Regions from separate parts of the Homo sapiens genome. Here region 2 is linked to region 1. Evidence: fine-mapped expression QTL. A gene starts in region 1. The other region holds a variant in brackets. All regions are shown on one strand. Distances are from middle to middle. Region 1 holds the start of SLITRK3 (SLIT and NTRK like family member 3). Region 2 overlaps LINC01322 (long intergenic non-protein coding RNA 1322).

The links. PIP is the estimated chance that this variant, and not a neighbour inherited with it, causes the effect.
Region 2: its variant is fine-mapped to the expression of SLITRK3 in esophagus muscle (GTEx, PIP 0.94).

The regions. Positions count from the first base shown.
Region 1 is chr3:165,194,394-165,198,798 of GRCh38, reverse strand. It overlaps SLITRK3 (SLIT and NTRK like family member 3), which reads left to right and starts at 2,415. Exons shown (of 2, transcript NM_001318810.2): 1 at 2,415-3,219.
Region 2 is chr3:165,283,241-165,287,645 of GRCh38, reverse strand. All of the region lies in intron 2 of LINC01322 (long intergenic non-protein coding RNA 1322), which reads right to left. Among named protein-coding and RNA genes, the nearest start is that of LINC01322, 78 kb to the right of the region's middle. The variant T/G (reference allele first, on the strand shown) is at 2,150.

The DNA.
Region 1 (4,405 bases):
CTGCTCAGAGTAAACAAATTAATATATTCAGAACTCTCTCATCAAAATGACCTTGAAAATAGTTCCAAAAAGTTAAAGAGATTCAGTAACTTTAGGAGTGATGTTGCCCAATGTCTTTCAGGGTTACTTTAATATCCTCCAGCCCTGAGGCTCAAAGGGCATGTGTGTGATTTCACACTTGCCCACATAAAATATGGTGTATCCAGGAGTGAGTCTCCTCAAATTGGGCAACCACCTGAAAAGGCCAAAAATATCTCTGTGACACATCAAACTACTGATGCAGTTTGGTTTTTCCTAAATCTGACTGATTCATTATGGGGATGTACTCCTTTGGCAACCCTGCCTAGATATACCACTTTGAAGCCCAATTTGGCGACCCAGTGAGTGAAACACCTATGACAAATTTTCTTTGTATATCTATGTCTTCCTGTATGTAAAATTCACATGGAAGAATTTATTATCCTAGAAAATACTGGAAAGAGGTTTGGAATTCATGCCAGTGAGTCTGAAATGCTATATTTAAAAAGAATCCATTTTAATACATGGTGCTTTTTATTACTTTCTGGGTCCCTGTAGATATTTTACTAATCTTAATAATCTTGAAGAATGCTGAGTATTTTAAAGAACAAATGAAAACATTGTAAGTATGATATATACACACACGTATACACGTATATATATATAATCTAAATTCATTTTATGCAGAACCAACACAGTTGCCATACTAAATTTAGAGTGTGTGTATATGTATATATCCCAAAAAATTCCACAGGCCCCTGGCTGTCTCTGTGACCAACTCCATCCTTTCCTATCTTTTAATGTAGGTAATACGGACACTAACTTGTGGTATTATATGTCAATAATATGAACTAACGATGGTATAAATTATAGTATATACAAAATTCACTAAATAAAGATGTAAAACATATATCCAGGCCTGTCTATCGAAGGATTTTATGCATAAATTAAAAGAGAGTACTGTTTCTTTGCAAAGGGTGAGTTAGAGTTCTTTGAATGCTTTTGAAAATAGGTTCAAGATCATTCTACCTACAATTATAATAGCTAAATAACTTTGCCTTCCTTGGACAATGTATTGCATTCTCTTCAGGAAGAAATGGCAAGAGATACAGAGATGATTCCCCAGGCTACCTTCTATTCACTTTGGGAGTTAGTGGAAGACTGCCCTCTTTCCAACACAGTCTCTGATGAAAGGGATCTATTAAAAAGAATTGCGTTGGTTTACACTGCAGATTGAATGGAGCATTAAACGAATGACTGCATTAGTATGACTGCAGTGGGGGTAATGGTCGCCTCTGTAATGTTGTAATAATACTTTCACATACGTGTTATTACACGTATTAATTGTTCCAGTGTCCGTATCTAATTTATCGCGAAATGGTATCCAGCATCTCTCAGGCAAATGCCCCCCTCCCAACTCCCTGTGCCCTACAGTTTTATGCCCCCCGCCCCCGGCAAATGTAAACAGATGAGGAAATATGTGTACTTTCAAATCGTCACCCATGTATCATGAAGGTGGGGGATTACTGCAAATCACTTGGAAACCGCTCCCCGGAGGCGTTTAGCGATACCGCCCACCAATACAGCTCAGATGTTCTTAATTTGATCACCCTCCACCTTTTGGGCTGTAATTTTCCAAACAGGCATCTCTCTCATTTGCAAATAAAAGTTACAAATCAATCCACGGGTACAGAATGCTGACTTCCCGACACTCAATTTCACAGGGTGTCTCTTGAAGAGCTGCCAGGTTGTGACCGATAATGGGGGAGAGGGAAAGGCGGACAGCGAAAGCGAGAGAGAGAGAGCGAGAGCGAGAGCGAGAGAGAGAGCGAGAGAGAGAGAGACAGAGAGAGGAGAGAGAGAGAGAGAGAGAGAGAGAGAGACAGAGAGAGAGAGAGAGAGAGAGATCACTTGCTTCCTTGCTTCCTAAGCCGGGATTTTGCCTGCGATGCGCGGCGAGAGGACTGCGGCGGCTGATTTACACAGTTGGCGCGGAGGAGGGGCCGGGGGTGCGGGGGGGACGCGCTGGCGGAGCTCCGGCGATGGGCTGATCTGGGGGCTCCCGAGCGCCGCTCCCTTGGTGCGCGATTTGGGGGCGGCTGATGGATTTGCATTCAGGTTCCAGCCCTGCGTTTCCTATATTGACTCCTTATACACGACCTGGCGCTCCAGTTTAGGAGGAGACGTTGGTAAGTAACGTGTAATCCGATTTTAGTTATTTCCTAGGCCATTAAAGTGGCACTTTTAAAGCAGGTCAGTCTTAAAAGATGCCGCCGCCGCCGCCGCCGCGAGCGTCTCCTTGGCCTGAAACGTTCAGCAGTCCCCTCCCCCTCCCACCCCCCTCCCCCGCACCTTCTCCCGCTCGAGAAGTGAGGGTGCTTGAATGGTGAGCGGTCAGAGGACTCACTCTCTGCCAACGGTATCGCTTCACCTTCGTGCTTTGCCTGAGATCTCCCAAATCCAAGTGGAATTTGGTGTGCACAGCCATACTGTGTATTTGTATCTTCTCTCCCCCTCTCCTTCTTTCCCCCCACCTTCGCCGTCTGACCAATGCTGGGATCTGAGATCTAGTCGCCCCCTTCCTGCCTCCTTTCCGCCTCTCCCCACCCTTTTCTTCTCTCATCTACACGCCACCAACCCCCACTCCCACCCACCTAAAGGGCAAAGAGCAAAGACACCCTGGAAAAGCAAGGGCTAATTCCATCTTCTCGGATGGAAGGAGGCCTCGGGCAGGGATTGCGCTGTGAGTGACAACCTTTGAGGAAGAGAGAAAGAGAGAAATCCAGAGACTGAGCTCAGGCTCTCGGGAACAACGAAGCTCTCCACTGATCCAGAGCACCGAGATTTTAAATCAAAGGAACCTAGTCCTGGGACACTCACTCTGCCTGCCTGCCTACCAACCATCGAGGGCATAGGGAGCTGTGGTCGTGAGCTCCCTGTCGCTGGCATCGCCGCGCTAGGTGCGCGCCCCGCTCTCCCATTGGTATGCAGCGACCATTTCCCTGCAAGTCTCAAAGGTGGAAACATTTAAACGGATTACAAGCGTGATTCGGTAGCCTTTCGGAAAGTTGGTGGCCAGAAGAGGAGAAGCTACAAGGCTACAGTATGATGGATACAATTCAGCTTCGCAGAGAGTTTGCCCCTCCTGCTGGGTAGCCCCTCGCAGCAAACCTCGGAGATCCTGAGCGCTCTGCACCATAGGTACTCGCCGCCATCCTTTCCTACTTCGCCTAATTGAAACCAGTATTTCTCGTATGTAGGATGTGCATTGTAGAGCACATCGAGTTTGGCCGCGGTGTATTCTGTACGCTCACAGGTGCTAGGGGTTTGTTGCAGTTTTGAATTGGATCAGTTAGGTGTAAGGACGTTGGTGGAAGGAGGGGTACCGGAGACTAACATACCCTCGGACCTCTTTTCTGGGTGAAGACATCGTAAGTAACTCCAACAAATAGGCCAGGTGGCGGAGCGAAGGACCCCTCCCCCAGTGGAATGCTCGCTGGTGTTGTAAGAGGTAGAAGGAAAAAGGCTTGAGCTTTTAATAATTTTCCGTTTCTAAACAGACCATTGTGCGTTTCGCCTGACGACAGCAGATTAGAAAAGGCTCTATAGACGGCTCAAAGCTCTTCAGAAAATGAATGATGCAGCGTTTTAATTATTTGTTCTAGGGAAGATAGTTTTGCTTCCATATTGGAATACTTAATCTTAGATCTGAAAAAATTAGTGAGCTGTAAGATCCAGCAGTGGGGAGGAGGAAGTGGGAAGGGGGCACAGCAGGGAGAAAGGGCTTCTTGTCCTCCCTCTGGACAAACAAATGGCTCTGGGCGCTCCCAGCAGGACACGGAAAAAACTGGGGCCCCATGGCTCAATATTCCCTAACTTTTGGAGCCCTCCCTGTCCTTTAGACGCGCTATCCTGAGCTAAAGAAAAGGAAAAAGGTGAGATAGCCTTTAGGACACAGCCCAGGTCCAGAACGTAAGGGGTTTTAGTTCAAGAAATAACAGAGACTTCATTGCCGAGACAACATTTACCGTCATCTGGAAGCTCAGGGCAGCCTCCGGGTTACCCATCGATTCCATCACATCATGGGTTCCGATAACACCCGATAAATAGTCACCGCCTCTGCACATTGGGTACCCAAAGTGCTGGGCGGGGGATGGGGGGGAGGGTGCGGGTGCCGGCAGCTGGGGAGGGAGAGGGAATTGCTCTGATTCTGAGCTTAGGCTATCGGTATTGGTTTACTTCTTGGCTAAGACCTATGGGAGCAATAGGGTGAGTCTGGAATATTAAGGGTAGAATGTTAGAAAATTCTGCCCTCCTGCTTACTTAGTGTATGGTGGCATGTTTCTAAAATTAGCTACTGTCTGCCAGTGGACTCCTGTGCGGTCAT
Region 2 (4,405 bases), 89 kb before region 1:
CTGTACAAGTGAAGGGTTCTAGAATTATTACTCAGGAAAATAGATCATTATGGTGAAATGAGAAGTCATTATTCTGGGATATGTTGTTTCAGTCAGCATTAGCTTTCAGGAACCAGTCAGGAATGGCAGTGAATAGAATTAGGCAGAGTACTCAAGTTTCAGCCAAATGAATTGGGAAAAGAAGGGAAAACCCACTCATTCATTCATTCTTTTAATCACTAGATAAGTATATAATGAATATCTACTACATGCCAAGTTCTCTGCTATATGATTAATTTTAAAACATAGTCCTAGCTAATTTTAAAACATAGTCATGGAGTTTACAGTCTAGTTATTCAAATAATTAGAAATAGATGAAACAAAAGGACGATGCAATAGCATTATTGTTAGGTAATGGATAAATTGGAAGGAAACATTGAACTAGCCCAACAATTGCCAATTTTCTGCTATTGTGAATGTACAATAGTGTGCATAAAGTCTAGGTTTGGGATTTTAAGTTGAAAAAACAGAAACTTACATATGTTTTTTAAAATGAAGAGAATCATTACTCTATATGAAGGAATGTAACTATGAAAAAAAGTCATTTGTATAATTAAATTAAAATACTATTTTTATTAATGAATGACAGAATTTGCCAGATTATAAGAAAATGGTGATTCTAATTATGGCACTATTAAGAGGGTCCCTATTGCAACAATTAGAATTTGACTTTTTAATTATGCCCTGGCAAACTGCCTTACTGAATTAATACCCTGGAACTAATATTTGAAGGCATCATTAGTATATTTTGTTAATAATACCAAGAAAGATTACATTATTATATTCCATATTGGAATCATATTTTCAGGTATTGCAAAAAGTCATTGTGAGCAAAGTAAAGTTTTTAAAACTTAAATTGCATGATATTTTTATTCAAATATGTTCTGCTAGGCACTCAGAAGTATAGGTCTCAGAAGAAACTTTTTATTTCATTCCAGTTCCTTTATACATATTCAGCACATTTTCCAAATATCCCATGAATTGCCCCTAAATTTCTGATAGTTTTCTCATTTACCTTCTCTGTTATTGCTAATTACTCAATACTATTGGTTCCATAGCCAATGTTTAGCACCATTCCTTGGCTGCCAAATGTCCTCTAGCTACTATTTACAGCTGTCCATACTTGATCTAAATTTTTGCGTCACTCAACAAAAAGCTGTCTGGATCTACCAATCAGCTTCATACAACTTCTTATAAAAGTGTTCCTGCCCCTTCTCAGCACCTAAGTCTGTTCCTAACAGTTCTCCATATAAAAGGGAAAAATAATTAAACAGAATCCTTTACTTATTTAAATATTTGCGTTTTTTCTTTTTTTAGAATATATGCAAAAGTGTATAATAATTACAGCAAAGTTTTTGTAATATACTTTTCCTGATTCTCTTATAGCTATCACTTTTGAATTACAAACTTACAGTAGCTATGATCCAACAAGGGGTTACAAATTGCAGGATTTTTAAATGATCTTTTAGATTACAAAACAACTACCATCCAAAGAGATATTCTCAGAATTTTAAAATCTTCTCTCTTACTAAAAATAAACAATAACAAATAATTTTAAATATAAAAAAAACCTTTAAACCAACTTCAGCTGACTCTATGGAACCTAATAGATAATTCTGCCTCTGTATTGATGGGAATGCACTTCAAAAGCACTATAATACAGCATTATTTATAATTTGTTACAAAATCATGAGCTCGTTCAACAGAAGTGTATCTTTCAGACAATTGACAAATATCCATCTACGAGCTAAAGGTGAGATTATTTAATAATATCTGAGAGAACCTTTAAAAATATTATAAACTTCAATGGTTTCTTAATCAGCATCATTATGGTCCTCAATTATTATACTAAGGTTTAATGCAACAATTCCTCATTTGGCATTAAGGTAGGTATATAAGAATGATTTTCTTGTATATTTCAGTGCCCTCAAGTCAATAAGCTTTTTGCTTTTGTGTTTGTTTTTTTATAGTCATCCACCCCTTTCTTATTATCAGCCTGTCATCTCCTTTTATTTTTTGCTTGTAAAATATCTTACCCAACCCACTTTTTCTTTTTTTTTCCACATCTATCCTTTACTGAGGACTAACAACTTTGAGTGAATTATGGATT[T/G]TAGATCATTTCTTCCAAACAAATGAGCATTAAGTTTCATACATATAAATATAAACAAATGTTATATCTAATACTATATAACATATTAACATTTATATTACATATACTGTATATAAGTTTACTCATCAACACAATGTGTGTGTGTATGCAACTAGGATATAAAATGGTTTAAGGACAATTTCCCGCATATTTGGGGTTTATGGCAGGGTTGTAGACATTTGAGTCAGCCAGAAAATGTGCTTCCTGATAAATAAAGTGTCATTGCAATAAACTAGAGCTATCAAGCTCCACCTAGTTCACCCTAATGAATGCTATGAGATATGGAAAAATAAAACAATGAAAAAATTTGCTCCTAGCATTGATTATATTTAAAACCTAATTTCATAAATATAAGCAAACACATGTTATCCAAATGTGCAATTTAATCTTACGTTAAAATTGAAATACTGAAAGCTTTGGTTTCATGTTGACAATATTATTTTAACATCATTATTTTAACTCAGATTCAATTCTACTTTGTTTTTGTTATTCTGAAAAAAAGAAAATAAGCCATAAGCCAGTCATAAACTCCCTTACTCTGCTGATTAATAGGGGTTTCTCATATTTTTGTATCAGTAAATCGCTTTGGCCTGATTCAATGCAGCATTATCCTTTATTAGGAAGTCGGGTTTTATGCTATCACATAACATTTTAGGAAAGGGCCTGAGAGATCATTGGTCCATTCCCTTTATTTAGAGATTATAAAAGGATTTTAGAAAGATGCTGAAAAAAAATCTCTTGTGTTCTGATTAAAGTTTATCTTTTTTTGCTCCACTTAAATAAGTTTCTTATGTCTTGTTCATATAAACAATCCCACTGTTATATAAGGTCAGCTAACTGCTATAGTGCTTCAATCAGGCATTACCATGTTGTGGAGAGAAAAAAATAACACATTTTTAAAAAATGTCATACACAGTAATGTTCATAACTTACATCCGTAAGTTATTGTTTTGTCATAAAAATGTTCTTCTCAACTATGACCGAATAATCCTCATCATATCTTATTTTTTCTTTGTTCCATTTTCTTTTCTATGTTATCGGCATTAGAGGGATTCTGGAAAAAATCACCTTAGTGGTATTTCTAAAAACAAAGAGATGTTTTAAAGTCATTTTTTCTGACCACAAAATTAATGCAAAGTATGAAAAATAAAAAAGAGGTATACATGTGTCTGTGTGCATGCATGTGTGTGTGTGTGTGTGTGTGTGTATAATGAGTAAATACATAATATATACACACAATCTATACTTACCATGATCTATTATCTCATCATCCAGGGGCTAAGTATCTTGAGATATTTCTATTTTGTCTTTCTTTTATACTGTTTTGTTTTGTTTTGTTCTGTTCTGTTTTGTTTTGTAACATGAATGCAGACATACATATGGAAATTGCAAGCCTGGCTACTGTCTTAAGAAAGAATTAACCTGAATTTGTTTTTTAGTTCTGATGTAACACACCAAGGACAGGCCTGCAGAGTCATTCTTTAAAAACCTTTTTCTGTGTTCACCATTATGACCTAACTTGACTCAGGAAGAAAGAGGCAACAATTTTGAAGTAAAGGAAAATTTCACCCATTTTTGAATCCTGGAAAATTATAAAAAGAAGAAGAAATATTTTGTTGTAAAAGAGCATCAACAGCAAGGCTCCCCCGCAACTACCTATTTCAACCACTGGCAGGAGGGAACTTTGCAGTATATCTTATAAATAGTCAAGAGCAAAATGTGATCACGGGAAAGGAGGCTTTGGGATTTATCTTTCCAGGATGATTTAATTTCAAATATGGATTGGAAGTAAATTGAAAACCAGAGGAACCACCATGATATATATCACGATGTAGTGAGGGGACTTCTTTCAGACTGCAGGATGGATCATGGTAGCTGATAGCTCAAGAAAGCTGAAGAGAAGTTGAGTCAGCATTGAGCAGGCTGAGAGTCCCTGTATATGCATATCAAAAAAAGATCACGTGAATCTACCTGAAGGGTGTGTTGTAAGCAGAAGAAAAAAAAAAATGTTTCCCTGGAGAGCAGCACGTGTCTGTCTTTACGCACTGGAGAACCAGCAAGAAGTCCCTTTATCCTCAAATTTAGAAAGAGATAAACACCTCAATATCCGTGCTCATATAAGATGATGGTAGTGTAAGAGAAGAAAATTTATTTGAGAAACTATTCTTTTAGTCCAAAAATAAACAAATACTAAAGTAAGGTTTACGTATTTTAATT